Regions from separate parts of the Homo sapiens genome. Here region 2 is linked to region 1. Evidence: fine-mapped expression QTL. A gene starts in region 1. The other region holds a variant in brackets. All regions are shown on one strand. Distances are from middle to middle. Region 1 holds the start of CYP1B1 (cytochrome P450 family 1 subfamily B member 1). Region 2 holds the start of CYP1B1-AS1 (CYP1B1 antisense RNA 1).

What was found.
Region 2: its variant is fine-mapped to the expression of CYP1B1 in whole blood (INTERVAL, PIP above 0.99).

The regions. Positions count from the first base shown.
Region 1 is chr2:38,071,771-38,086,288 of GRCh38, reverse strand. It overlaps CYP1B1 (cytochrome P450 family 1 subfamily B member 1), which reads left to right and starts at 10,138. Exons shown (of 3, transcript NM_000104.4): 1 at 10,138-10,509; 2 at 10,900-11,943. The coding sequence starts at 10,901. RefSeq lists silencers at 9,023-9,142, 10,053-10,142, cis regulatory regions at 9,186-9,215, 10,136-10,143, an enhancer at 9,117-9,315 and a promoter at 8,782-10,157.
Region 2 is chr2:38,120,083-38,136,048 of GRCh38, reverse strand. It overlaps CYP1B1-AS1 (CYP1B1 antisense RNA 1), which reads right to left and starts at 4,944. Exons shown (of 3, transcript NR_027252.1): 1 at 4,859-4,944; 2 at 4,435-4,538. All of the region lies in intron 2 of LOC107985871 (a long non-coding RNA gene), which reads left to right. The variant G/T (reference allele first, on the strand shown) is at 7,140.

The DNA.
Region 1 (14,518 bases):
TGCCAGAGAACAACCCCCCTTTTTCCTTTACCTACCCAAATCATATAAAACGGCCCCACCTGTCTCCCTTGGCTGACTCTCTTTTTGGACTCAGCCCGCCTGCACCCAGGTGATTAAAAGCTTTATTGCTCACACAAAGCCTGTTTGATGGTCTCTTCACACGGACATGCATGAAATTTGGTGCCATGAGTCGGATCGGGGGACCTCCCTTGGGAGGGCAATCCCCTGTCCTCCTGTTCTTTGCTCCATGAGAAAGATCCACCTACGACCTCAGGTCCTCAGACCGACCAGCCCAAGGAACATCTCACCAATTTTAAATCGGGTAAGCGGCCTCTTCTTACTCTCTTCTCCAACCTCTCTCACTGTCCTTCAACCACTTTCTCCTTTCCACTCTTCAATCTCTCCCTTCTCTTAATTTCAATTCCTTTCATTTTCTGGTAGAGACAAAGGAGACACGTTTTATCCGTGGACCCAAAACTCCGGCGCCGGTCAGGGACTGGGAAGGCAGCCTTCCCTTGGTGTTTAATCATTGCAGGGACTGCAATGATTATTCACCCAGGTTTCAGAGGTGTCAGACCATGCAGGGACGCCTGCCTTGGTCCTTCACCCTTAGCGGCAAGTCCTGCTTTTCTGGGGAAGGGGCAAGTACCCCAACCCCTTCTCTCCGTGTCTCTACCCCTTCTCCTCCTTTCTGGGGGGCAAGAAATCCCCAACCCCTTCTCCTTCACCCTGAGCGGCAAGTCCTGCTTTTCTAGAGGAGGGGCAAGTACCCCAACCTCGTATCTCTGCACCCCAATCCCTTATTTCCGTGCCCCGACCTCTTATCTCTGCGCCCAATCTCTTATTTCCGCGCCCCAACCTCTTATATCTCTGTGCCCCAATCCCTTATTTCCACACCCCAACCTCTAATCTCTGTGCCCCCATCCCTTATTTCCGTGCCCCAACCTCTTCTCCGTGCCCCAACCCCTTTCCCGCTTTTCTGGAAGGTAAGAACCCCCAAACCCCTTCCCTCCATGTCTCTACTCTCTCTTTTCTCTAAGCTTGCTTCCTTCACTATGGGCAACTTTCCACCCTCCATTCCTCCTTCTTCTCCCTTAGCCTGTGTCCTCAAAAACTTAAAACCTCTTCAACTCTCACCTAAATTAAAATCTAAGCATCTTATTTTCTTCTGCAATGCCGCTTGACCCCAATACAAACTCAACAGTAGTTCCAAATAGCCGGAAAACGGCACTTTCAATTTTTCCATCCTACAAGATCTAAATAATTCTTGTTGTAAAATGGGCAAATGGTCTGAGGTGCCTGACATCCAGGCATTCTTTTACACATCGGTCCCTCTCTAGTCTCTGTTCCCAATGCAACTCATCCCAAATCTTCCTTCTTTCCCTCCCACCTGTCCCCTCAGTCCCAACCCCAAGCGTCGCTGAGGCTTTCTAATCTTCCTTTTCTACGGACCCATCTGACCTCTCCCCACCTCCCCAGGCTGCTCCTCGCCAGGCCCAGCTAGGTCCCAATTCTTCCTCAGCCTCCGCTCCTCCACCCTATAATCCTTTTATCACCTCCCCTCCTCACACCTGGTCTGCCTTACAGTTTCGTTTCGTGACTAGCCCTCCCCCACCTGCCCAGCAATTGACTCTTAAAAAGGTGGCTGGAGCTAAAGGCACAGTCAAGGTTAATGCTCCTTTTTCTTTATCCCAAATCAGATAGCGTTTTCATCAAACATAAAAACCCAGCCCAGTTCGTGACTCCTTTGGCAGCAGCCCTGAGACGCTTTACAGCCCTAGACCCTAAAAGGTCAAAAGGCCGTCTTATTCTCAATATACATTTTATTACCCAATCTGCTCCCGACATTAAATAAAACTCCAAAAATTAGAATCTGGCACTCAAACCCCACAACAGGATTTAATTAACCTCGCCTTCAAGGTGTACAATAATAGAAAAAAGTTGCAATTCCTTGCCTCCACTGTGAGACAAACCCCAGCCACATCTCCAGCACACAAGAACTTCCAAACGCCTGAACCGCAGCGGCCAGGCGTTCCTCCAGAACCTCCTCCCCTAGGAGCTTGCTACAAGTGCTAGAAATCTGGCCACCAGGCCAAGGAATGCCTGCAGCCCAGGATTCCTCCTAAGCCATGTCCCATCTGTGTGGGACCCCACTGGAAATCGGACTGTCCAACTCACCTGGCAGCCACTCCCAGAGCCCCTGGAACTCTGGCCCAAGGCTCTCTGACTGCTTCCCAGATCTTCTTGGCTTAGCGGCTGAAGACTGATGCTGCCCGACTGCCTTGGAAGCCCCCTAGACCATCACAGACGCCGAGCTTCGCGTAACTCTCACAGTGGAAAGTAAGTCCGTCCCCTTCTTAATCAATACGGAGGCTACCCACTCTACATTACCTTCTTTTCAAGGGCCTGTTTCCCTTGCCTCCATAACTGTTGTGGGTATTGACAGCCAGGCTTCTAAACCTCTTAAAACTCCCCAACTCTGGTGGCAACTTAGACAATACTCTTTTAAGCACTCATTTTAGTTATCCACACCTGCCCAGTTCCCTTATTAGGGCGAGCCACTTTAACTAAATTATCTGCTTCCCTGACTATTCCTGGATTACAGCTACATCTCATTGCTGCCCTTCTTCCCAGTCCAAAGCCTCCTTTGCGTCCTCCTCTTATATTCCCCCACCTTAACCCACAAATATAAGATACCTCTACTCCCTCCTTGGTGACCGATCATGCATCCCTTACCATCTCATTAAAACCTAACCACCTTTACCCCGATTAATGCCAATATCCCATCCCACAGCATGCTTTGAAAGGGTTAAAGCCTGTTATCACTTGCCTGCTACAGCATGGCCTTTTAAAGCCTATAAACTCTCCTTACCATTCCCCCATTTTACCTGTCCTAAAACCAAGCAAGCCTTACAAGTTAGTTCAGGATCTATGCCTTATCAACCAAATTGTTTTGCCTATCCACCCCATGGTGCCAAACCCATATACTCTCCTATCCTCAATACCTCCCTCCACAATCCATTATTCTGTTTTGGATCTCAAACATGCTTTCTTTACTATTCCTTTGAACCCGTCATCCCAGCCTCTCTTTGCTTTCACTTGGACTGACCCTGACACCCATTAGGCTCAGCAAATTACCTGGGCTGTACTGCCGCAAGGCTTCACAGACAGCCCCCATTACTTCAGTCAAGCCCAAATTTCATCCTCATCTGTTACCTATCTCAGCATAATTCTCATAAAAACACACGTGCTTTCCCTGCTGATCGTGTCCGATTAATCTCCCAAACCTCAATCCCTTACAAAACAACAACGCCTTTCCTTCCTAGGCATGGTTAGTGCGGTCAGAATTCTTACACAAGAGCCAGGACCGCACCCTGTAGCCTTCCTATGCAAACAACTTGACCTTACTGTTTTAGCCTAGCCCTCATGTCTCCATGCAGCGGCTGCTGCCGCCCTAATACTTTTAGAGGCCCTAAAAATCACAAACTATGCTCAACTCACTCTCTACATTTCTCATAACTTCCAAAATCTATTTTCTTCCTCACACCTGACGCATATACTTTCTGCTCCCCGGCTCCTTCAGCTGTACTCAGTCTTTGTTAAGTCCCACAATTACTATTGTTCCTGGCCCGGACTTCAATCCGGCCTCCCACATTATTCCTGATACCACACCTGACCCCCATGACTGTATCTCTCTGATCCACCTGACATTCACCCCATTTCCCCATATTTCCTTCTTTCCTGTTCCTCACCCTGATCACGCTTGATTTATTGATGGCAGTTCCACCAGGCCTAATCGCCACACACCAGCAAAGGCAGGCTATGCTATAGTACAAGCCACTAGCCCGCCTCTTAGAACCTCTCATTTCCTTTCTATCATGGAAATCTATCCTCAAGGAAATAACTTCTCAGTGTTCCATCTGCTATTCTACTACTCCTCAGGGATTATTCAGGCCCCTTCCTTCCCTACACATCAAGCTTGAGGATTTGCCCCCACCCAGGACTGGCAAATTAGCTTTACTCAACATGTCCCAAGTCAGGAAACTAAAATACCTCTTAGTCTAAATAGACACTTTCACTGGATAGGTAGAGGCCTTTCCTATAGGGTCTGAGAAGGCCACCGCAGTCATTTCTTCCCTTCTGTCAGACATAATTCCTCAGTTTAGCCTTCCCACCTCTATACAGTCTGATAACAGACCAGCCTTTATTAGTCAAATCAGCCAAGCAGTTTTTCAGGCTCTTAGTATTCAGTGAAATCTTTATATCCCTTATGGTCCTCCGTCTTCAGGAAAAGTAGAACGGACTAAAGGTCTTTTAAAAACACACCTCACCAAGCTCAGCTACCAACTTAAAAAGGACTGGACAATACTTTTACGACTTTCCTTTCTCAGAAGTCAGACCTGTCCTCAGAATGCTACAAGGTACAGCCCATTTGAGCTCCTGTATAGACGCTCCTTTTTATTAGGCCCCAGTCTCATTCCAGACACCAGACCAACTTAGACTGTGCCCCAAAAAAACTTATCATCCCTATTATCTTCTGTCTAGTCATACTCCTATTCACCGTTCTCAACTACTCATACACGCCCTGCTCTTATTTACACTGCCGGTTTACGCTGTTTCTCCAAGCCATCACAGCTGATATCTCCTGGTGCTATCCCCAAACTGCCACTCTTAACTCTTGAAGTAAATAAATAATCTTTGCTGGCAGGACTGTGCTGAATCTCCTTAGGCACTCTCTAATCAGATGTCCTGAGTTGTCCCAATTCTTAGACCTTTTATACCTGTTTTTCTCCTTCTCTTATTCCATTTAGTTTTTCAATTCATACAAAACTGTATCCAGGCCATCACCAATAATTCTAAATGACAAATGTTCCTTCTAACAACCCCACAATATCACCCCTTACCACAAAATCTTCCTTCAGCTTAATCTCTCCCACTCTAGGTTCCCACACCGCCCCTAATCCCGCTGAAGCAGCCCTGAGAAACATCGCCCATTATCTCTCCATACCACCCCCAAAAATTTTCGCTGTCCCAAAACTTTACCACTATTTAGTTTTATTTTTCTTATTAATATAAGAAGACAGGAATGTCAGCCCTCTGAGCCCAAGCAAAGCCATCATATCCCCTGTGACCTGCACGTACACATCCAGATCGCCGGTTCCTGCCTTAACTGATGACATTCCACCACAAAAGAAGTGAAAATGGCCTGTTCCTGCCTTAACTGATGACATTTTCTTGTGAAATTCCTTCTCCTGGCTCATCCTGGCTCAAAAGCTCCCCCATTGAGTACCTTGTGACCCCCACTCCTGCCCGCCAGAGAACAACCCCCCTTTTTCCTTTACCTTCCCAAATCCTATAAAACCGCCCCACCCCTGTCTCCCTTGGCTGACTTTCTTTTCAGACTCAGCCCACCTGCACCCAGGTGATTAAAAGCTTTATTGCTCACACAAAGCCTGTTTGGTGGTCTCTTCACACGGACGCGCATGAAATGTATAATGCTTTGTCAGCTCCAAATCATACCCTCAACTTTCCATTTTACATCTCCGAAATCTGGATGTATCTTAGAGTCGATGATGCAATTATAATTGGTAGCTTCCTTTCTTTATGTTAGTACATAAAAATAAGGGTGCATCCTACAAATGATGGCTTCTGAGATTAGATAAAATACCTTTCTATTAGCTCTGTGGTTCTCTGCCTGTGTATTGCCAGGAGGAAGGAAGTGGAGCATTTCAGGTGAGGCACAGGGTTTTGGTATCAATTCCTAAGATTCCTTTCATGGTCCAGCCCCTGGTGTGCATTATCCTACAGTTCCTCCCTCTATCGCACCCTCAGCCACTTGGTGTGTCTCCTTATTTCTGCTCCTCTTGCCTACCAGCATGTGCCTGATGACTGAATCCTGCCCACCCAAATGTCAAGAGCCTACCAGAGATGGCTTATTCTCCTCCACTCTCCTCAGTGCATGTGGGTATGTGTGTTTGGAGATGACTGGAAAAGCACAGTGGCTACCCATTAAACTGACTTAGGGGTCACACTAGAGAGGAAGACCATGAAGAAAACTGAGTTCCAGCCTGACAGCAGAAGGGCAGAGCTTTCTGGGCTACTGGCTCTAAGGGCAATGCATATATCTGCTGATTTAAAATAATAATAACAATAATGGCTTTGGGTTTCCTTAGGTTATCCTCCAACCCAAAGAAACCAGTGGGCAGACATGTATACATGGAGTGGACTGGGTCAGCTCTTTGGCTTCCTAGCATGTTCTGCCATCTCTTTTTTTCTGATGACAGAACAAGCCCTTGCCCACAGGGTAAAAACCTGATGCCAGCCTGGCCCCCTGGAGTCCTTCTAGGACCCTGGAAGAGAGCTGTTCTCTTTCTCTTTGTTTTGTTAATTTTAAGCTGCTTCCTTGCCATGCAAAGAGAGAAAGCCCAAGCAAAGACCAGCATAGGCAGAGAGCCGGTAGAGCGGCCTGGGTCCTTGTATCCTGTGAAGCATCACGGTTATCCTTCTCTGCACATGGGCCAGTGCATTCCTGTTCTGCTTAAACAAGCTTAAGTTGTTCCTTCGAGTCAATACAAGATAAGATATTTTAAACCTCTCTCTACTTTAAACTATCCCTCTAGCTTAGCTGTTCTTTTTGAAAGTTATTTGCAACAAACAATTCAAGTTTGAGATTTGGGAGGGCAGAATGCCCATATTCTGTGTTGATTGAAAGGAGATTCCTGGGCCTTAGGTCCCTGCTTTGGTTGAGAAGTTGTGATGATAATTAAAGAGCCTGCGTAGATTCTCACTAGAGGCAGGGCTCTGCCTTGAGTTGGGTCGGGGTGCCAACAGGCTGCTCTGGATTTATCCGAAGTCCTTATCAGGGTACCGGATGGGGCATTCAATGAAGTTTGCACCATAAAGCCCTAAGAACTCCAGGCTTGAAGATTCTCTGCAAAAAGTGTTACCATAGCCAGTCATTTTGGTTTGCCATAACCGATAAGGGCTTATCTTTCTGACAGCACTTACCAACCTAGTTCCTCTGATTTTTGAGTCATGTCCTAGAAAAAGAGCTGAGCCCAAGGAACTACAGCTTGGAGGATATATCTGATCTATCTGCGATGGCAGGAAAGCATGCATCTAGTTGATCTAAAAACTAGATGGCATTATTGAGGAGTTGGACAGGCGGTCTTAGGAACAACCTCGTTTTATACTTTTTAAAAATAGGAATTTACTTAAAGGCAACTTCCATCTGCTCTCATTCTGGCAGAGGTATTGTGATAAAGGCTTTCAGGAATGTCAACAGCTCAGGATTGGCATTAGCTCATAGATAATTCCCGTCTACTAAATTAAAGTCTATGAGAGATTGATGCATGCACCAGAGTCTTGAATTATTAGGCAAGGATCTTGCTAAAGCTGGACATGGGAAGGTTGCTATGAAACTCATTTCAAAGGCTGTGTAGGCCAACTCACCTCTGGGAAACCAACGCTTATTATTAAACCAATGCAACTGCTCAAAAACTAAAACTCCATCACTATCTAAGTTCCCCATCATGGTGTGTGAAATCATTTCCAGAAAACTCTTCAAAAGATACCGAATAAAAGGCATCACAGGCCGGGCACGGTGGCTCATGCCTGTAATCCCAGCACTTTGGGAGGCCCAGGCTGGTGGATCACCTGAGGTCAGGAGTTTGAGACCAGCCTGGCCAGCATGGTGAAACCCCATCTCTACTAGAAAAATACAAAAATTAGCCGGGTGTGGTGGTGCGCACCTGTAATCCCAGCTACTTGGGAGGCTGAGCCAGGAGAACCTGGCAGGCGGAGGTTGCAGTGAGCCGAGATCACGCCATTGCACTGCAGCCCAGGTGACAGAGTGAGACTCCATCTCAAAAAAAATAAATAAATAAAAATAAAAATAAAAAAAGCCATCACGAAAAGACATTTCTTTATCAGGTCAGCAAATTGATTGCTGGTTTCAATCTCTCAAGAAGTCAGATTCTTTTCAGACACTCCTTTGTGTTTCTTTACAATGTAATCAGTCATTCCAGGGTCAGCTATGAGGCACACTCCCCTGGCCTCCCTCATAAGCAATTTAATTGCAAAGGGTTAGCATACTATTTCTTCTCTGCTATTCTCAGAATTCTCAATTATGAAAACAAAAACAATAATTAAAAAGTTCTTCCAGCTGATTTTTTTTTTTTTTTTTTTTTTGAGACAGAGTCTCACTTAAACTCTGCTGCCCAGGCTGTAGTGCAGTGGTGCAATCTCTGCTCACTGCAACCTCTGCCTCCCACGTTCAACCAATTCTGCTGCCTTCCCCCCTGATCCCCGAGTAGCTGGGATTACAGGTGTGCACCACCACGTCCGGCTAACTTTTGTATTTTTAGTAGATGGGGTTTCGCCATGTTGGCCAGGCTGGTCTCGAACTCCTGACCTCAAGTGATCCGCCCGCTTAAGCCTCCCAAAGTGCTGGGATTACAGGCGTGAGCCACTGCGCCTAGCCCCACGTGCATTTTTTTTTTTAAGGGAGGCAGGAAAGAAGGCATTTGGGCCTCTTATCTGCAATTTTCTTCCGTGTAAACTTATGTGAAGGATCTGGAGTGGGACTTGGTGGCTTCAAGCCCTGGCTCCACTTCTTGATGGCTGCGCGACCTGGGTTAAGTCACGCAACCTCTCTGAACCCTAGTTTATTCATCTGTAAACAGGTCAATAATAGCACGAGATTCGCAGCGCGAGTGGAGCTCAAAGTGCAGGGTTGTCCCTGGTGAACCTATCACTTTTATATTTATCCTTTGATGAAGCCAGTACAATTCCTACCTGGTTAACCAGATACATCCCACCTCTTCCCTCGAGTTCGCCCTTCCCCCCGCCTCGTGAAGTCCTTGTTCTCTTAGCTGTCTTGAAAATCCTATGCATCAGCATGTAGGAAAGGGCGCGCCAGGCGGGGGAAGCCACCCCCGCCCAAGCGCCTCCGGCTTCCCTTATAAAGGGAGGGCCCCCTTCGCGACCGCAAGCGCGCCCAGGAAGACCACAGAGCCGCCGGTGCGCAGCGAGGTGGCGATACGCGCCCGGGCTCGGCCTGCGGGTGGTGGCCCAAGCGTCCGCCTCGCTGGCCTGGCAGGCGCGACTGTGCGTGCGCAGCCGAGGGTGGTGGCGGCCGGCACCCCACGCCAAGGGTGGTGGTGGCCGGCACCCCACCCTCGGCCGCCGCCTCCGCGTGTCAGGTGCCGTGAGAAGCGCGGGAGGAGCGGCCGCAGGCAGCGCCCAGGGATATGACTGGAGCCGACTTTCCAGAAGCGGCGCACGCAAAGCCCAGCTCCGCACGCAAAGGGGAGGCGACAGCAGAAACTTCAACCCGATAAAGTTCGCCGGAGCGCGGAGATTCGCCTCCTCCTGCCACTCTCCGCCCCGCTCGGGTCCCGCCCCGCTAGCTCCCCCAGGCCCCCCCAGTCGCCCCAGCTTGGCTCCCCGCCCTGCGCCAACGGCTTCCATCGCAGCCTGGGCGGCCCCGCGCCCACCAGCGGGCGGCGCCACCTGGAGTGGCCTCTACGCGGGAAATCTCAGGGCCAGCTGCGCCCCAGGAGCCTTTGTGTGCCCAAGCACTGTCGGGGCCCCGGGGCGGGGGAGCGGCTACTTTTAGGGATTCCTGATCTCGCCGCAAGAACTGGAAAAAATTTAGCATGCCAAAGAGCCTCCACTGAGGTGGCAATTTGTTTGCGAGAACCTAAGATAAAATTTAAACAACCAACCAGGGGCGCTGTGAGGCAAACCGCTGCCACTACACTGGCTTTCCGGGAAGCAAGCTCAAGTCGCGGAGAGGGAAGGGAGGTCGTGCGCTCGGGGCGGGGCGCGCTCCCAAGTCGAGCGCAGCGGCCGGGGCAGGTTGTACCGAGCGTGGTTCTGGGGACACCGTGCGGCCTCGATTGGAGGTGGCTGTGATGAAGCGCGGTTACCGCACAATGGAAACGTGGGCACCTCCGCTCCCATGAAAGCCTGCTGGTAGAGCTCCGAGGCCGGCCGGTGCGCCTGGACGGGAGTCCGGGTCAAAGCGGCCTGGTGTGCGGCGCGCCCCGCCCCCCGCAGGCCCCGCCCTGCCAGGTCGCGCTGCCCTCCTTCTACCCAGTCCTTAAAACCCGGAGGAGCGGGATGGCGCGCTTTGACTCTGGAGTGGGAGTGGGAGCGAGCGCTTCTGCGACTCCAGTTGTGAGAGCCGCAAGGGCATGGGAATTGACGCCACTCACCGACCCCCAGTCTCAATCTCAACGCTGTGAGGAAACCTCGACTTTGCCAGGTCCCCAAGGGCAGCGGGGCTCGGCGAGCGAGGCACCCTTCTCCGTCCCCATCCCAATCCAAGCGCTCCTGGCACTGACGACGCCAAGAGACTCGAGTGGGAGTTAAAGCTTCCAGTGAGGGCAGCAGGTGTCCAGGCCGGGCCTGCGGGTTCCTGTTGACGTCTTGCCCTAGGCAAAGGTCCCAGTTCCTTCTCGGAGCCGGCTGTCCCGCGCCACTGGAAACCGCACCTCCCCGCAGGTCAGTCTGTCTGCCGAGGCGCTGCCCGGCGACCTCTTCAGATGGATTATTACAGGTAGCGGGTGGCGTGGTAGGTACTTTAAAGGAAATCAAGCGCCACCGCCTCGATGCCCGCAGCGTTGTCCCCAGATTGCAGGAACCGTTACGCGCCTTGCGGGGAGGGGAAGGGTTTGGCGCTGGGTTACAGCGAGGTGGAAACACGCCCCTTCTCTTCTCCAAGGGAGAGTGGGTTGGGGATGGGAAGGGGCGTCTTCGGCCATTTCTCCAGAGAGTCAGCTCCGACCTCTCCACCCAACGGCACTCAGTCCCCAGAGGCTGGGGTAGGGGCGTGGGGCGCCCGCTCCTGTCTCTGCACCCCTGAGTGTCACGCCTTCTCCTCTCTGTCCCCAGCATGGGCACCAGCCTCAGCCCGAACGACCCTTGGCCGCTAAACCCGCTGTCCATCCAGCAGACCACGCTCCTGCTACTCCTGTCGGTGCTGGCCACTGTGCATGTGGGCCAGCGGCTGCTGAGGCAACGGAGGCGGCAGCTCCGGTCCGCGCCCCCGGGCCCGTTTGCGTGGCCACTGATCGGAAACGCGGCGGCGGTGGGCCAGGCGGCTCACCTCTCGTTCGCTCGCCTGGCGCGGCGCTACGGCGACGTTTTCCAGATCCGCCTGGGCAGCTGCCCCATAGTGGTGCTGAATGGCGAGCGCGCCATCCACCAGGCCCTGGTGCAGCAGGGCTCGGCCTTCGCCGACCGGCCGGCCTTCGCCTCCTTCCGTGTGGTGTCCGGCGGCCGCAGCATGGCTTTCGGCCACTACTCGGAGCACTGGAAGGTGCAGCGGCGCGCAGCCCACAGCATGATGCGCAACTTCTTCACGCGCCAGCCGCGCAGCCGCCAAGTCCTCGAGGGCCACGTGCTGAGCGAGGCGCGCGAGCTGGTGGCGCTGCTGGTGCGCGGCAGCGCGGACGGCGCCTTCCTCGACCCGAGGCCGCTGACCGTCGTGGCCGTGGCCAACGTCATGAGTGCCGTGTGTTTCGGCTGCCGCTACAGCCACGACGACCCCGAGTTCCGTGAGCTGCTCAGCCACAACGAAGAGTTCGGGCGCACGGTGGGCGCGGGCAGCCTGGTGGACGTGATGCCCTGGCTGCAGTACTTCCCCAACCCGGTGCGCACCGTTTTCCGCGAATTCGAGCAGCTCAACCGCAACTTCAGCAACTTCATCCTGGACAAGTTCTTGAGGCACTGCGAAAGCCTTCGGCCCGGGGCCGCCCCCCGCGACATGATGGACGCCTTTATCCTCTCTGCGGAAAAGAAGGCGGCCGGGGACTCGCACGGTGGTGGCGCGCGGCTGGATTTGGAGAACGTACCGGCCACTATCACTGACATCTTCGGCGCCAGCCAGGACACCCTGTCCACCGCGCTGCAGTGGCTGCTCCTCCTCTTCACCAGGTAAAGCCTCTGGGAGGCGTGGGCCAGGTCTTTTCTCCTCTGAAAAAGGCGGAGTAGAGACAGAATATGCTGAGTTTGCAAGCAGGGCCCCGGGTTTGGGGTTTCGCTCCAGGTCCCCACCCCTCAAAACCAAGATCGCGTCGGTAAAGGGACTCACAGTGAGGGCTGCGACACGCGCACGCGCCCCACCCAGCGGTGCCCCGACCCCTCCGGTCTCCTATCTTGTCTCTATCGTCCCCTCCCCTGCTTGCGAGTGAGAACACATTTGCAAAGACCCCTCCACCCCCCGGAAAAACAAGAGTTTTTAAATGCTTGGAGATGAGCCCTGATATCTCTCTCCCTGGCGCATTACAATCAGAACTGGAATAGTTCCGAAAGAAAAGGTAATGTCATAAATATGTTAAACACAGCAGCCTCTCCTAGGCTAGTCCTCGGCGTGCATCCGAGGCCGCCCAGCCCTGGCGCTAAAAGCGGGCCGCCCGTCAGGGCTTTGTTCCAGGCCAAGGAAGCCCATGGAGGCCGGGCCAGCCGACAGGTAACCCGCACAGAAACTTTCAGAAGGCGGCCACAACTAGCGGGCAGCGCTAGGTTTATAAAACCTCCGCGCTAGGAGTTTGAGAAATGCCGGGGTAGAAGACAAGAAGCAGTCACTTTTACGAAAGCAGAGTAGCATTCAGAAAGGCAGATGGGATATCCAGGAGGCGCCTGCAGACGTTTCTGGCCCCTGCGCTTGGCTCAGTTAGCGGACCCCCTGATGCCCACGTTGGTCTCTACTAAGCACGGATTCAACAGGTCCCTGGTGTCGGGTTGCCAGATTTGGCAAAAGAAAAGTAAGTTTTACACGGGAATACTCACACTAAAAGATTAGCCCTTGTTGATCTGAAATCCATATTTAACTGGGCGGCCTGTAGTATTTACTGTGGAAACACTATCCCTAGGGGCAAATGTTTCGCAAGGCAAATTTTGATTGCCGAAGAGACCAGAAATCCTGGTTTTGTGTCATTTCTTGGAGCACAAGTGAGCAGTTGGAGATGCTGAATCTGCAGGCGCCACAGAAAGGTGTTTGGAAGGCAGAGAATGACTCTTTCCTTATTAAAATCCACTGCAATCTATATTTCCTTAGATACTGTACAGCTACCTTCACAAATTAAAAGTTTCTGTATACTTAAAATGGCTTTTTAGTATTAAAATCATAGAAACACCCATGGTGGGTGAGGGAGAGGCAGAAATCGAATAAAGAAAAGTCAACCAGAGATCAGGGAAAAGGAAATCCCGGAATAGGTTCCATAGGTTTTTGTGCATCCGCAGATAGGCATTTTAACTTTTGAAACGGCCTTTGTTTTTCATTAGAACCACAATAGTTCTCCGAGTACTCCAATTAGGCGGCAAAAAGAAATAAAACAATTTGGAGGTCACTTTCAATTCAATATGCTGATACTTTTTTTTTCCTTTTTAGTGAAAAGACGTATGACAGGGCTTGGCAAATTACACGATCTGTTTTTGTATATACGTTTTATTGACGCAGTCATGCCCATTCATTTATACATTGTCGATGGCTGCGTTCACTCTACAACACAAGGCAGAGCAGAGTAGTGCAACAAAGAGGGTTTGGTCCACAAAGTCTAAAATAGATACTCTCTGGCTCTCCCCACCATACATGTTTCTATGAAAAAAGTTGGCAGACTCCTGCAATATAATGTTGAAGAAGCGATTCTAAAAATAACTCCACTTCATCACATACGTGTATACATTTTTTTTCGGAGTTGCAAACAATCAGTTACTTGTTTTTTGACTTCTAACACTTTGACTCAAGGTAGTGGACATTTCTAATCTTTTAATATTTATTTTGGTAATTTTTGATGGCTATATAGTATTTTGCTATGATAATGTATAGTTATATATAATCATTTATTGAACTTTAATGTTGGTCATTGGCCTTGATTGCATTTTTAAAATTTTTATTTTAATTTTATGTATTTACTTACCTTAGAGACAGGGTCTCACTACCTTACCCAGGCTGGTCCCAAACTCCTGGGCTCAAGCAGTTCTCCCGCCGCTGTCTGGCAGGTAGCTGGGGCTACAGGCGTGTACCACCATGCCTGGCTAATTTTTAGAATTTTAGGTCCTGTTGTGGTTACATATTTTTGTATCTCTTAAATTATTTTCTGAAAATACATTTCTAGGCATGGATTACTGGGTTTAAAATGAGGCGGGAAGAGGTTACCTTCATGTCTCTTGCCTCGTATTAAGATTTTGTTTTTTAAAAAGATTGTATCAGTTTGTATCATCAACAGTGAATAAGTACTACAGTTTGTACCATAATTTTATGAACATTGGGTATTTGCTTTCAAATTTAAAAAATACAGTATGTAGCTTTATCCATCAGGACACCAATTATCTTTGTATAAAATGAGAACAGCATGTCTGTTGGAATTGTCCAGGGAAATGAGGGAGAAAAAAAATTTACTTTCACATTGTAACTTTCGTGGGCCCTGGGTGCTTTTGCCTTTGTAGATTCCTTATACTATAAAAAAATTAAAAATTAAATTTCATGACTACCCTGATATAAAGATGA
Region 2 (15,966 bases), 49 kb before region 1:
CCAAACAATAATAATGGGAGACTTTAACACCCCACTGTCAACATTAGACAGATCAACGAGACAGAAAGTTAACAAGGATACTCAGGAATTGAACTCAGCTCTGCACCAAACAGACCGAATAGACATCTACAGAACTCTCCACCCCAAATCAACAGAATATACATTCTTTTCAGTACCACACCACACCTACTCCAAAATTGACCACATAGTTGGAAGTAAAGCACTCCTCAGCAAATGTAAAAGAACAGAAATTATAACTAACTGTCTCTCAGACCACAGTGCAATCAAATTAGAACTCAGGATTAAGAAACTCACTCAAAACCCCTCAACTACATGGAAACTGAACAACTTGCTCCTGAATGACTACTGGGCAAATAATGAAATGAAGGCAGAAATAAAGATGTGCTTTGAAACCAAAGAGAACAAAGACACAACATACCAGAGTCTCTGGGACACATTCAAAGCAGTGTGTAGAGGGAAATTTATAGCACTAAATGCCCACAAGAGAAAGCAGGAAAGATCTAAAATTGACACCCTAACATCACAATTAAAAGAACTAGAGAAGCAAGAGCAAACACATTCAAAAGCTAGCAGAAGGCAAGAAATAACTAAGATCAGAGCAGAACTGAAGGAAATAGAGACACAAAAAATCCTTCAAAAAATTAATGAATCCAGGAGCTGGCTTTTTGAAAAGATCAACAAAATTGATAGACCGCTAGCAAGACTAATAAAGAAGAAAAGAGAGAAGAACTGCATAGATGCAATAAAAAATGATAAAGGAGATATCACCACCGATCCCACAGAAATACAAACTACCATCAGAGAATACTATAAACACCTCTACGCAAATAAACTAGAAAATCTAGAAGAAATGGATAAATTCCTCAAACACATCCATCCTCCCAAGACTAAACCAGGAAGAAGTTGAATCTCTGAATAGACCAATAACAGGCTCTGAAATTGAGGCAATAATCAATAGCTTACCAACCAAAAAAAGTCCAGGACCAGATGGATTCACAGTCGAATTCTACCAGAGTTACAAAGAGGAGCTGGTACCATTCCTTCTAAAACTATTCCAATCAATAGAAAAAGAAGGAATCCTCCCTAACTCATTTTATGAGGCCAGCATCATCCTCATACCAAAGCCTGGCAGAGATACAACAAAAAAAGAGAACTTTAGACCAATATCCTTGATGAACACTGAAGCAAAAATCCTCAATAAAATACTGGCAAACCTAATCCAGCAGCACATCAAAAAGCTTATCTACCATGATCAAGTGGGCTTCATCCCTGGGATGCAAGGCTGGTTCAACATATGCAAATCAATAAATGTAATTCAACATATAAACAGAACCAAAGACAAAAACCACATGATTATCTCAATAGATGCAGAAAAGACCTTTGACAAAATTCAACAACCCTTCATGCTAAAAACTCCCAATAAATTAGGTATTGATGGGATGTATCTCAAAATAATAAGAGCTATCTATGACAAACCCACAGCCAATATCATACTGAATGGGCAAAAACTGGAAGCATTCCCTTTGAAAAGGGGCACAAGACAGGGATGCCCTCTCTCACCACTCCTATTCAACATAGTGTTGGAAGTTCTGGCCAGGGAAATTAGGCAGGAGAAGGAAATAAAGGGTATTCAATTAGGAAAAGAGGAAGTCAAATTGTCCCTGTTTGCAGATGACATGATTGTATATCTAGAAAACCCCATTGTCTCAGCCCAAAATCTCCTCAAGCTGATAAGCAACTTCAGCAAAGTCTCAGGATACAAAATCAATGTACAAAAATCACAAGCATTCTTATACACGAATAACAGACAAACAAACAGAGAGCCAAATCATGAGTGAACTCCCATTCACAATTGCTTCAAAGAGAATAAAATACCTAGGAATCCAACTTACAAGGGATGTGAAGGATCTCTTCAAGGAGAACTACAAACCACTGCTCAATGAAATAAAAGAGGATACAAACAAATGGAAGAACATTCCATGCTCATGGGTAGGAAGAATCAATATCGTGAAAATGGCCATACTGCCCAAAGTAATTTACAGATTCAATGCCATCCCCATCAAGCTACCAATGACTTTCTTCACAGAACTGGAAAAAACTACTTTAAAGTTCATATGGAACCAAAAAAGAGCCCGCATTGCCAAGTCAATCCTAAGCCAAAAGAACAAAGCTGGAGGCATCACGCTACCTGACTTCAAACTATACTACAAGGCTACAGTCACCAAAACAGCATGGTACTGGTACCAAACCAGAGATATAGATCAATGGAACAGAACAGAGCCCTCAGAAATAATGCTGCATATCTACAACCATCTGATCTTTGACAAACCTGACAAAAACAAGAAATGGGGAAATGATCCCCTACTTAATAAATGGTGCTGGGAAAACTGGCTAGCCATATGTAGAAAGCTGAAACTGGATCCCTTCCTTACACCTTATACAAAAATTAATTCAAGATGGATTAAAGACTTAAATGTTAGACCTAAAACCATAAAAACCCTAGAAGAAAACCTAGGCAATACCATTCAGGACATAGGCATGGGCAAGGACTTCATGTCTAAAACACCAAAAGCAATGACAACAAAAGCCAAAATTCACAAATGGGATCTAATGAAACTAAAGAGCTTCTGCACAGCAAAAGAAACTACCATCAGAGTGAACAAGCAACCTACAGAATGGGAGAAAATTTTCGCAACCTACTCATCTGACAAAGGGCTAACCTCCAGAATCTACAATGAACTCAAACAAATTTATAAGAAAAAAACAAACAACCCCATCAAAAAGTGGGCACAGGATATGAACAGACACTTCTCAAAAGAAGACATTTATGCAGCCAAAAGACACATGAAAAAATGCTCATCATCACTGGCCATCAGAGAAATGCAAATCAAAACCACAATGAGACACCATCTCACACCAGTTAGAATGGCAATCATTAAAAAGTCAGGAAACAACAGGTGCTGGAGAGGATGTGGAGAAATAGGAACACTTTTACACTGTTGGTGGGACTGTAAACTAGTTCAACCATTGTGCAAGTCAGTGTGGCGATTCCTAAGGGATCTAGAACTAGAAATACCATTTGACCCAGCCATTTGACCCATTACTGGGTATATAGCCAAAGATTATAAGTCATGCTGCTTTAAAGACACATGCACACGTATGTTTATAGTGGCACTATTCACAATAGCAAAGACTTAGAACCAACCTAAATGTCCAACAATGATAGACTGGATTAAGAAAATGTGGCACATATACACCATGGAATACTATGCAGCCCTAAAAAATAATGAGTTCATGTCCTTTGTAGGGACATGGATGAAACTGGAAACCATCATTCTCAGCAAACTATTGCAAGGACAGAAAACCGAACACCCCATGTTCTCACTCATAGGTGGGAATTGAACAATGAGAACACATGGACACAGGAAGGGGAACATCACACACCGGGGACTGTTGTGGGGTGTGGGGAGGGGGGAGGGATAGCATTAGGATATATACCTAATGCTAAGTGACGAGTTAATGGGTACAGCACACCAACATGGCACATGTGTATATATGTAACAAACCTGCATGTTGTGCACATGTACCCTAAAACTTAAAGTATAATAATTAAAAAAAAAAAAAGACAGGACGATAATACACATTTGGTGATACAATTAAGAAACATGATATTGGAAAGTTGCTGACCAAGTGCCACCTAGCATTCCTTCTCTTGTACTAGCCACATGCCCACTCCTCATGGCTACTGCTAGCCTCATCTAAGAACTGGGGACCCAGCCTGGCAGGATAAGTGTGGCTCCATGCTTTAAGCCAGAGAATTTAGGAGACTATGATCTGTTGCTGTGTCAATCTGAAAGCTGAGGGATCTGAAGGGTACGTGGTACCCATTCTCTGACTCTCACTCCCAAAAGTCCTTTTCTCCCTGGGTCAACATACGGTTGGTGCCCAAGGCCCTTCCTAGGAATTGGAAGCCAACAGTGACACAAAGCACTTAGGAGGCACACAACCACAAATGTGTGAGGTTTGCCTTCCCATATTTTCTGGACCCATGTTCAAGCCTGGAACTCTCTAGTTCATAAAGGGTTTTACTCTTGCAGGAGTCAGCAAACTATGGCCTGTGGGTGGAGGGCCAGATGGGGCCATGCTCATTCATTTACATACTGTCTAATGGTTGCTCAAAAATCACAGAGTTGAGTAACTAAGACAGACTGGAAGGCCCACACAGGCAAAAAATGTACTATCCGGACATCCACATAAACAGTTTGCAGGCCACTGATTTAGAGTAAGACCAGTTCTCCTGGGGGCAATGGATTGTCTTTCTTTGCTTTCAGCCTGACCAATGCCCGTGGGTAGGGATGGAGAGGGAGCCCATCTCTCTAGTTGATTCTGATGAGAAGAACCAGGGTGACCCACCTGGAATGTGAGCCTCTGATCTTCCAGGCATCTGGCATGCCCATTTCTTCCACAGAGCAGGATAGAAGCTCCTCCCAGCAGGGGGTCTTGACTATTTGAGACCACTGTAAAAGAAAAGTAAGAACAAGTGATTCACGTTTGTGTTTCCTGTAAAAAGAACATGGTTGTCAGTGCTATTAACCTGGTTACCACTGACTTTGACGCAGATACAGCCGGTTCATGTTTCAGAACTTCATGAAACAGGCCTGTGCCTTCAATCAGAGGCAGCCCAAAAGACAAAATTGCCAACACTTTCTATTTGCAGTGGCCCAGGAATTATCAAATAACCTTAGTTCCTATTAAACTCCTGCCTATTTACCATTGCCTAAACCTGGAGGCAAAATCTAAATCCAAACCATCACAGGTAATCTCCAATCTCACATACTTTTCCAAAAGATTCATGTGTTAGGAAAGGATGATTGATGGCTCAAAAGTCACCAGTGCCGATTCTTGTGTTAGCAACCATAGTTGAAGTCAATGCTTAGAACTGGCGTGGGAAGATGTTCTCAAAACTGCAGCTTTGTGCCTTTGTGGTTATGTAACAGCCTCCTCCATACAGAGGATTACTACGAATGGGTGCTTCCTGCTGTTGTCTCATGTTGATGAGGCATTTTATATTCTTGAGGAATATTCTGGAGGGAGGAGGTTGGTGAAGACTGGTAAAGTAGAGAAGAGAGACATTTTAACAAAATATTCATATTTATCTGGTCTCTAACATGAAAGCTGCATATTTTGTGGTATATTAATTAAGTCATTTTTATAAGTTATAAATGATACTAGTACAGTAAGTCCTCACTTAATGTCATCGATAGGTTCTTGGAATCTGTAACTTTAAGCAAAACAACATGCAGCAGGTTCATAAATAATGTCACTTCCTTTAACGTTTTGTTATAACGTTGATGAGAAAAAAACGCTTTTGTTACATGTCATTTTGCTTAAAGCTATAGTTTCCAAGAAACTGTCGATGACATTAAGTGAGAACTTACTGTATAATAACATTATGTTAGAGTTTAGTGGGCTCCCAAAAGATCTTCTCTTACCAGGTAGACAGTTCTCTCTTTTAGAGATAAAAGAATTGAGCCTCACAGAGGCCGTATGAGCAGTCAGAGTCCCACTATGTTCCCACCTACCATTCACCACTAAATCCTTAGTCTGGCTGCAGAAAACAGAAAAGATTTATTTCCTCAAAAGTCAACTTCTTTAGACTACATTGACCCTAATAGAATTCAGAAAGCAACTCTTAGACTCAAATTTTTCTGCTTATTGCCACCACCACACTCCCCCAGTCATATGACAAGAGTCGTTTGCGGTAGGAAGCAAAACCAGAAATGCACTTGAGCAGTCTTTCTATGTCCTTCCTTGCCTCACCCCCATTGGGGGCCTGCATGATGGTGAGTGGCCACATAAACAGTCCCTACGTCTCCAGGAGTTCCCTTGGCCATGGCTGCTGGAATGACTCATCCTTCTCCATCTGTAGCCTAGGCTTTCCCCTTCTCCTTAATTTCCATGAGGGAGCAGTCTTAGATCAGAGCCTCCCCAAGGGGACAGGACCACAGCCCTCCCTAAAAGGTCCTGGATCTGGTATAAATCTAACCATGGGAGAAAACAGAATTCAGTTACAGACAACATCAAGGGCAAACTTGAAGGGGAGCAAAAATCACAATATGGGTGTGGGAACTGGACCACAGAGTTACAGTGGTCATTTCCTCCCCACCACATCTTGTGAACTTTACCTTGCCCACTGCCCCAAGGGGCAACCATGTGGCTCATGGCCCTGGCCACCAATAACTGAATTGGGAGTAGACCCACTTTAAACATGACCCACTTTAACCAATCAGACATCTTTATCTAGAACTTGGAGTTGGGACACAGAAAGCCTGAGGGTGTTTTTTTATCTGTGAGTGCTAGACTCACAAGATTCTGTGGGCTCAAGGACTGAGTTAGACAGTCATTTAAGGTCATGTGGTAACAGAGTATGCTTGACGAAGGGGGAGGATGGAGCAGAGACAAAGATAACTGAGAGAAAGGGAGGAGGAAGGGCAGCTCCAGACTCTAGCCCTTCAGTGATCCAGGTGCAATTCTTCAAACTGGGTTTCACAGTATTCCGTTATCACTGTGCAAGTAATCCCCATTTACTTAAGTTACTCTGAGTGGGTTTCTGGCCCTAGCAACTGAGTGCTCCCCCACCATAAGATGAAATGGCTAGGCTGGAGCTGGGAGGCAGAGGCAGTGAGTGAGGAAGCTAGACGGATTTTTCCAGAGAAAGTAAGTCCTAGAGTCCAAGCATATGCACGCTATCCACACGTTCCAAATTTTAGGAGACAGCCCTGTTTCAAATGTGCCAGCTTGCCCAAATTTCTGTTTAGGCAATTGTGGTATATCTGTTTATATATATAATTTTAGCATTGGGAAGGCCCTCCTAAGTAAGACACAAACCTGGAAACCACAAAGAAAAGAAAAGATTGACAGATTAGACTACCTAGCCCTAAATTTTAAATTGCCTTTGACAAAAGCCACCATCAGCAAAATTAAAAGTGAAGGGGCAGCTTGGGATCTAAGTGACAGCTGGAGAGCCCCTGCACACTACAGACTCCCTCCTGCTGCAGATCAGACTTCTGGACAAGTCCAGCCCTGGCTTTGTGGCTGTCATGACTACTGAAAATGTC[G/T]TAACTGTTGGCAGCAAGAACATGACCTCTTGCTGTCCCAAAATGAGGAAATGAAAGGGAAAAAAGAGGAAATGGGATGAAATGAAAAATGGATGCAAACAACAGAGAGTGAGCAAGAAACATTGAGAAAGATGAAAAAAATGAGCTGTTTATCTCTCCTCTGCTTCTGGGCCCTCTCCTTTGTGCTACCCTAGTGATGTGCTCTATTGGTCCATTCTTACGTTGCCATAAAGAACTGGGTAATTTATAAAGAAAAGATGGTTAGTCAGCTCATGGTTCCTGTGGGCTGTACAGGCTTCTGCTTCTGGGGGAGGCCTCAGGAAACTTACAATCGTGGCACAAGGTGAAGGGGAAACAGGCCATTAGCAGCAGGAGAGGGGCAAAGGAGATGCTACACACTTTCAAACAAGCAGATTTCCTAAGAAATTGGGGGAATGGCGCTAAACCATTAAAAACCACCCCTGTGATCCAATCACCTCCCACCAAACCCTCCCTCCAGCACTCGGGATCACAGTTCAACATGAGATTTGGGTAGGGACACAAAGCCCCACCATACCATTCCACCCTTGGCCCCTCCCAAATCTCATATCCTCTCACATTGTAAAATATAACCATCCCTTCTCAACAGTCCCCCAAAGTCTTAACTCATTCCAGAATTAACTCAAAAGTCCAAGTCCAAAGTCTAATCGGAGACAAGGCAAGTCCCTTCCACCTATGAGCCTGTAAAATCAAAAACAAGTTAGCTACTTCCAAGATACAATGGGAGTACAGGCATTGGGTAAATACTCCATTTCCAGAAAGGAGAACTCAGCCACAACACAGGGGCTACAGGCCCCATGCAAGTCCGAAACCCAGCAGGACGGTCATTAAATCTTAAAGCTCCAAAATAATCTTGACTCTGTGTCTCACATCCAGGCCATGCTGATGGAGGGGGTGGGCTTCCAAGGCCTTGGGCAGCTCTGCAGGGTACATCCCCTGTGGCTGCTTTCATGGACTGATGTGAGTGCCTGTGGATTTTCCAGGTACACAGTGCAAGCTGGGGTCTGGAGGAGGATGACCTTCTTTTCAGAGCTCCACTAGGCAGTGCCCCAGTGGGGACTCTGTGTGGGGGCTCCAACCCCACATTTCCCCTTTGCACTGCCCTACTAGATATTCTCCATGAAGGCTCTGCCCCTGCAGGAGACTCCCGCCTGGACATCCAGGCCTTTCCATACATCCTCTGAAATCTAGGTGGAGGTTCCCAAGCCTCAACTCTCATCCTCTTTGTACTTGCAGGCTTAACACCACATGGAAGCCACCAAGGCTTGTGGCTTGCACTCTCTGGAGCAGCAGTCTGAGAAGTATCTGGGGCCCTTTTGGCCACAGCTGTAGCTGGAGCAAGTGGGATGCAGGGTGCCATGCCCCAAGGCTGCACAAAGCAGCAGGGCCCTGGGCCTGGCCCCATGAAACCATTTTTCCCTCCTAGGCCTCCAGGCCTGTGATGGGAGGGGCTGCCCCAAAGGTCTCTGGAATGCCTCATAGGCATTTTCCCCATTGTCTTGACTGCTAATATTTGGCTCCTCTTTACTTATGCAAATTTCTGTATTGGGCTTGAATTTCTCCCCAGAAAATGGGTTTTTCTTTTCTACCACATGGCTAGGCTGCAAATTTTCCTATCTATCTTTTATGCTTTGCCTCCCTTTTCAGGTCATTTCTTTGTTTATGCAGATGAGTTAGGCTTTTGGAAGCAGCCAGGCCACATCTTGAGCACTTTGATGCTTAGAAATTTCTTCTGCCAGATACCCTAAATCATCTCTCAAGGTCAAAGTTCAACAGATCCCTAGAGCAGGAGCACAATGCCACCAGTCTCTTTGCTAAAGCATAGCAAGAGTGACCTTTACTCCAGTTCTCAATAAGTTCCTCATCTCCATCTGAGACCTCATCAGCCTGGCCATCTCTGCCCATATCACTATGAGCATTTTGGTCAAAACCATTAAACAAGTCTCTAGGAAATTCCAAACATTTCCTCATCTTCCTGTCTTCTTCTGAGCTTTCCAAACTGTTCCACCCTCTGCCCATTATCCAGTTCCAAAGCTGCTTCCACATTTTCAGGTATCTTTGTAGTAATGCCTCACTTCTCTGGTACCAATTTTCTTCATTAGTCTGTTCTTGCATTGCTATAAAAACTACCTGAGACTGGGTAATTTATAAAGAAAGATGTTTAATCAGCTCACAGTTCTGTGGGCTGTAAAGGCTTCTGCTTTTGGGGAGGCCTCAGGAAACTTACAATCATGGCAGAAGGTAAAGGAGAAACAGGCACACCTTCACATGGCCAGCAGGAGAAGGGCAGCGGAAGTGCTACATGCTTTCAAACAACCAGATCGCCTGAGAACTCTATCATAAGGCAGCACTGTGGGGATGGTGCTAAACCATTAGAAATCACCCTCATGATCAAATCACCTCTCACCAAGCCCCACGTCCAACACTCAAGATTACAATTTAACACGGGATTTGGGTGGGGACCCAGAGCCAAACCATACTATGCACTAACTCATTTAAGCTGTTGTTATCTTAATCATGGGCTCACTGTAGAATGGGAGTGGTAGGAAGAAACATTAAGTGAGTGGTCATAATGGTGGCTTAGAATTCAAACCCATTCCATGTGACCCCTCACCCATGCTTGGCAAATTAAATCCATGATAATCCAAAGGGTTTCAAAATCGATTTTTTTTAGGTCTAACCGTTTCCTTCCCATTCTTATCATTTCCTCTTCCCTTAAAGCAAATTCCCTTTATTCTTACCACCCACTAGAATGGAGACTTGAAATTAGGTTCTTTCAGCTTGCCAAATGATAAACAGCTCTCTCAAATTAAGCCACATCTCATCCAGAGAGAAGGCAATAAAAATAGTGATTTATGTGGTTGAGAGTACAGTGAGACGTTTTTATAGCATCACAGATGGTTTTCCAAATTGCAGAGCAGCTTTATTTCTTTCTGCATATCTCAGTTTCTCAGTCCACAATTTGAAAATAATAAAGCTGCCCTCTTCCTACTTCTTGGGTGAATTGGTTAAATCATGAAAATCTATAAATAAAAGCACTTTGAATCCTAGAGAGAAGAGTCAAATAATAAAATAATCCCATTTTTCATCCATATGATGAAATTATATAAGGTCCCCCATATAATGGGGGACCTTATATAATGAGAAGGCTAGGCATATTGCTATGTTTGTGGGCAAATGATCTGGCCCAGAGAACACCTGACTCCTAGGAGTGTCAAGCTGGGGAAGAGGACTCAAGTATATACACAGTACCGTTATTTCAGATGTATCTTTGATAGCTCTAAAGTAACTACTGGAAACACCTATAGGGTGGCATGATAAGATAACTGAGATTTACATTTATACTTTACTACTCCCATTGGTTTTAAAAAACAAGACTGCTTGAGTTTGGTTTTCATCATGGCGGCTTCAGTCTTAGCCCAGGCTCTCCACATACTCTCTGTTCCAACTTCGACCCTAGGTGTACATGAGATCCATTCTCAGCACCTCTGGGCCCATTCCCTTCTACCCAAGCCAGGAGTGCTGGGTGCTGAGATTTAACAATCCAGATCAGAAGCGGCACCATGCAGTGTTGAGAACACAGGCCCTGGAGCAAGTCTGCTGCGTGTGAATCCCAACTCGCCTCTCTGACCTGGCATATCTCCTTATCCGTGATATGGGCATGGCACTAACATACCTACTCATAGGACTCTGGGGACAGTTAAACGAGACAGGGTCCATAAAGCACTTAGCTCACTGCCTGGTACAATAAATGGTGACTACTTTTTATAGGCAATTGTGAGAAACATGGTGAATGTGGGCAGGGTAAAATAGTTGGATTGGTGCTTCTTCTGCAGGTGGCATTCAACTCTTTTTGTGTTTGTTTGTATTTATTTTTCTTATAGCAAATTTCCTTTTTTAAACTGTGACCAAACAAATAGAATGATTGCTATGGTTTTACAATTTGCATGGCTGAATGAATATACCTTTGATAGTTTTTTTTATCATGTTTCTAATTGTTAGAAAAAAATTCTTTTTTCCTCTTCTGGGATTTCAGGGCATTACATTGGAAAATAGGTATTAAACTGATATGGGACAGAGGCCATGGCATATATCCTACAAAATCTGTATCTACACTCTTATATTATACTTACTTGCCCATATCTTTGAACTTGGGGCCAATCATAAGATCCTACATTCTAGTTACCAGAAAAAGAACATAGTAATTGAGTATGTAATTGAATATTGTTGGCTGGGAGTGGTGGCTCACGCCTGTAATCCCAGCCCTTTGGGAGGCCAAGGTGGGCGGATTACTTGAGGCCAGGAGTTTGAGACCAGCCTGACTAACATGGTAAAATCCTGTCTCTACTAAAAATTCAAAAAAATTAGTCGGGGGTGTTGGTGTGTGCCTGAAATCCCAGCTACATGGGAGGCCGAGGCAGGAGAATTGCTTGAACCTGGGAGGTGGAGATTTCAGTGAGCCAAGATCGCACGACTGCACTCCAGCCTGGGCAACAGAGCAAGACTCTGTCTCAAAAAAAAAAAAAAAAAAAAAAAAAAAGTTTATGGGTGAGTATTGAGCTAAGTGCATTATCCCATTCAATCCCCAATCTTATGAAGCAAATACTATCATTAGCCCTATTTTACAGATGTGGAAAGTGAGCCTTAGAGAAGTAAGTAATTGCCATAAGTCACACATCTGAGAAATAATGAAGTGAAAATTTGAACCAAAAGCATCTGGATCCAGAGCCTATGTTTTAGGAACTTGCTGTGGCTTTGATGCATCAGAATGTGGGAGCTGCAGGCCTGCGTGGACTAGTCTTGGACTCTTAACTGCTCTGCCATCCCACAGCAGCTGATAGGTTCATATGAAGCCACTGGCAACTGGTGCCAAGTTACCAGTAAGAAAATCAGACATTTTGATCTATCTATCAATTGGAATGTGCATGTCCAGAATAGATCTAGATATTTTTTAAAAAGCATTCAATGCCTAATTTTTAAACAAACTGCACATGCGAAGAAAATGCCCATGCATTTCTTTAAGCAGAAATATAAGTTAGTGAATTTGTTTCTTCTTGATAAAATGGTTAGAATTTGCTTAGAAATTCCTTTTATCATAAAAGTAAAAATTATCAGCTTTAACCTTCTCATTTGTCTCCTACTGCTTCTTTTCTTGTTCTTTATTCTCATCCATCCCCTTCTCTGTCTTTGCCTCTACTCTTCCTCTATTCCTTCATAAGAATCTAAACAACTCCTTTAAACATCAATTCAAATGTTCTTCCCTTGGATAGAGATCACTTCCATCCCCTTCATAACTAGCTGGGCCTAGTACCTTTGGGTTAGCAATTTTGCCAGAGATGTTGGAGAAAAAGGGGGTAGCATTTCCTCTTGAAAATCCAGCCTGCAAGGCATTTACAATCTCATGCTGGTTTCGTAAGGCCCTGCTGTCCCTCCAGAATAGAGGCCCACAGCACTCACTAGGTACCAGGCATGGTGAACTTGCTTGCCCAAGCTCTCTAGTAGGTGGCAGATTTACCCAGGTCTGCCTGACTTTAGAGCCTATTCTTTTAATCATTGTACCTTACTGTCTTTATAGACAAGGTCAGGCTCTCTATGCTTCTGTGAGATAATTTTCCCTAGGAGTGTAAATAGTTACTATAGAGACACTAGATGCCACCTGCTATAGCCCTCAGAAGTGGCATCAGACTATGCCTGGGCTTTCTGTTTTAAGGACAAGGAAGAATGAGTGTGACAGTGAAAGGTTGTATTTGTAAAGGCTGGAAGAGCAGAAATCCCCAAGTGCTAGAGAAAAGAATGTGGACAAGTGTATGGTATCCAATCATAGTATGTTAGAGCTGAGTTGGGCTTTAAAGATGATCTCCTCTAACCCCTTTATTTGCAGTTGAAGACGTTGAGGATCTGAGACATTAAGTGAATTGTCTGAGGACACACAGCCAGTTTCTTAGATGCAGAGCCAAGGATGAATTTTTTTCATTCAGACTAAGCTGTTTTTTGCAGTCCACCTTTACTCTACTTGGGGTTCATTTCTTTTTAAGAAGTCTCAAAGATTAGAAAATTGAGTCATTTTGAGCAATATAATGTCATATTGTACAATTCTGCTGAAAGTAATTTTAATAGCAATGCCGGCAGATCTCCCAAATCCATGGGTTTCAAAATATTTCCGCCTTTTGCTAAGCTAATATATAGAATTTCAAAACCATATTTATACCACATACAATTTCCAAAGAGCTGGGCAATTTCCTATAAAAACTCAGCTGTGCACTGATTGCCAAGTTGGAAAACTCAGGGTTTCCTGGCAACACCCACTTGGGCTCTAGGGAATGCAAGCTTCTCAGCAAACAACCTCTCCTGACTTACGAGCTCCATCGGCAGCCACGACCCGAGTCACAGCGGCCCTTTCTGATGTTCTTGTCTCTGTCGCTTATGTTTCTCAAGAACCTGTAATCTTGCCTTAATCCCTCACCAGCTGAATACCTCCTACATGCTAAACTCCTGGAATGAAAGGTCCACATTTCTCTCATGCTAGGAGTTTGGGACCAGAATTCAGATGAACTCATTGCTAGTACTGGTTCAAAAGCTAATGAGCCCTCTAGATTCCCAGGTCCTTAGTTTCCTCATGGGTAAAATATAGACAATAACTCCTACCTGTTCATCTTTCAGGGCTTTTCCGAAGATTTTCAACATCTGAAATTCACAGGATCATGGAGACGAACTAAACCATCATGGAGACTAACTAAACCAGATGCATCTAGCCCCTCATGTTAGAGTTGAGAAAACAGAAACCCAGGGTTTGGGGACTCCCTTGAAGTCATCAAGTTCCTGTTGATGGCAAAATCAGGACCAAGCTTCTGATCCTCCCAAATATTCCTTCACTTCTCAGTGCTGCCTGTGATGAGAAAGATCAAAGCATGCATACAATTATAAATCATGACACAGAGGCAACATGCAATTATTTAGGTACTAATTAATAGACTGTGTACCAAGTCAGCACTAATGAAATTTTTCATGCCTTGACAGGGTAGTAGCTTGTCAGGAATTTCTGAAGATGAAAAAACTATTCATCTTAGGACAAATCCTTCTCCTTCCAGTAAATACAAGGAAAGGAGGAAGTGTAACCAGGGGTATTTAAGCTCAGCCTCCTCCAGCAGCCATCTGCTGCTGCTTTTTTTTTTTTTTTTAAATGTTATTGAGATGTAATTTACGTACCATAAAATTCACCATGTTAAGGTGTGCAGTAGTATATTCACAAGGTTGTGTAACTATCACTACCCTCTAATTCCAGAACATTCTCATCATCCTGTTGCTTTTTGAATGTCAGTATTGTCAGCTCGAGTACAGCTTCACTCACATGTGGCTCTCAGTTGTATTCTGTAGTGTTCATCTTGACCCACATGATCAGATGCCCCAAGTTCACTCTGTATTTGAAGAGCTCCGTGTCTACTAAAGGTCTGATTCCCTACTGCGGGCCAATAGTAGGAATGAGATGGTCACTAAGCGTCAAAATAAGCACTAGCAATGAGAACCTGAAAAGCAAAACTCAGCCACCAAGGCTAATTTTCAGGGCAAAAAGAGGAGAAAATTTCCTAAGCCAAGAGTGGGTAGAACTGGAAGTGGGAAGTGGGGCTGGTTTAAGGACGGTGGAGGGTTCTCCAAAGTGCCACTCTGTCCTGCCTTAGAGCTCATATGCATGCTGGATCATCCTCCACCCCTATCACATCCCCCATTTTTGCTTCATCTAAGCCCCCTGGGATGCTGGAGCACCCACTGCAGGAGGCGCCCGAACTTCCCTTATCACAGTCCATCTCACCTGTGCACACCGTGATTACCTGCTGACTTGTCTGCATTCCTGAATAGACCGGAAGCTTCAAAAAGGAAGAAACCCTGCCTTTTTGGTTACTTATTCACCCTGCTTCTCAGCATCCTCTGGCACTATCTCAGTAAAGATTTCTTGAACAAGTTATTAATCTGGCCACAAGCCCAAATTTCTTTCTATATCCCTCTAATGCTCAAATTAAAGTTTGAGTGTGAGAATGTACCCGAGCCTCACACAGTTATTTATGGTGGATACACAAAATAATAATAATCCTGGGTCAAAGCTGCTTTCCTGTAGCTTTCACTAAATAGTCTTCATTCTGATCCAAAGACCAAGAGAGAATACATCTTTTCCCTATTCTCTGTGGTACCCCTTTAGGTATGTGACATGAGCTGTCATGTCCTCTGTACCTTTTATTCTCTGAGTTAACCAACTGTACTTCCTTCAACAATTATGCATGACATATGAATTATTTACTCATTTATTCAACAAATATCTTACGGCATGGTCTATGTATAAAGCACTGTGCCAGGGCAGTGGGGGTGAGCAAAGGCATGGCACAGACCCTGCCCTAAAGAAGTCTATGGTCCACCATGGTTGTGCTCTTCCCACTTTCTGGGGTTTCTTGAATTGGTCAATGTCCCTTTCCAGATGTGGTTTCCTGAAGTGGACAATGTATTTCGAAGTAGTCTGACCAACACAGAATTCAGAACTATAACTCATGATCTAGATCCTCTGCTTCCAAAAACTTTTGATTGTTCATGTTATTCTTAGATAAATGCTCAGGGTGTACTAATCGTGTGTGTGTGTGTGTGTGTGTGTGTGTGTGTGTGTGTGATGTAAAGAGACATTTGGCTAACATTTTTGTAAGATGCTTGTTCTTTATGCTTAAACCAAATATGTGGTAGTATTTCTGGTGATCAAATCCTTACACATCCTTATCTTGAGTCCCTCTCCTGCTCCAAAAACCTCTTA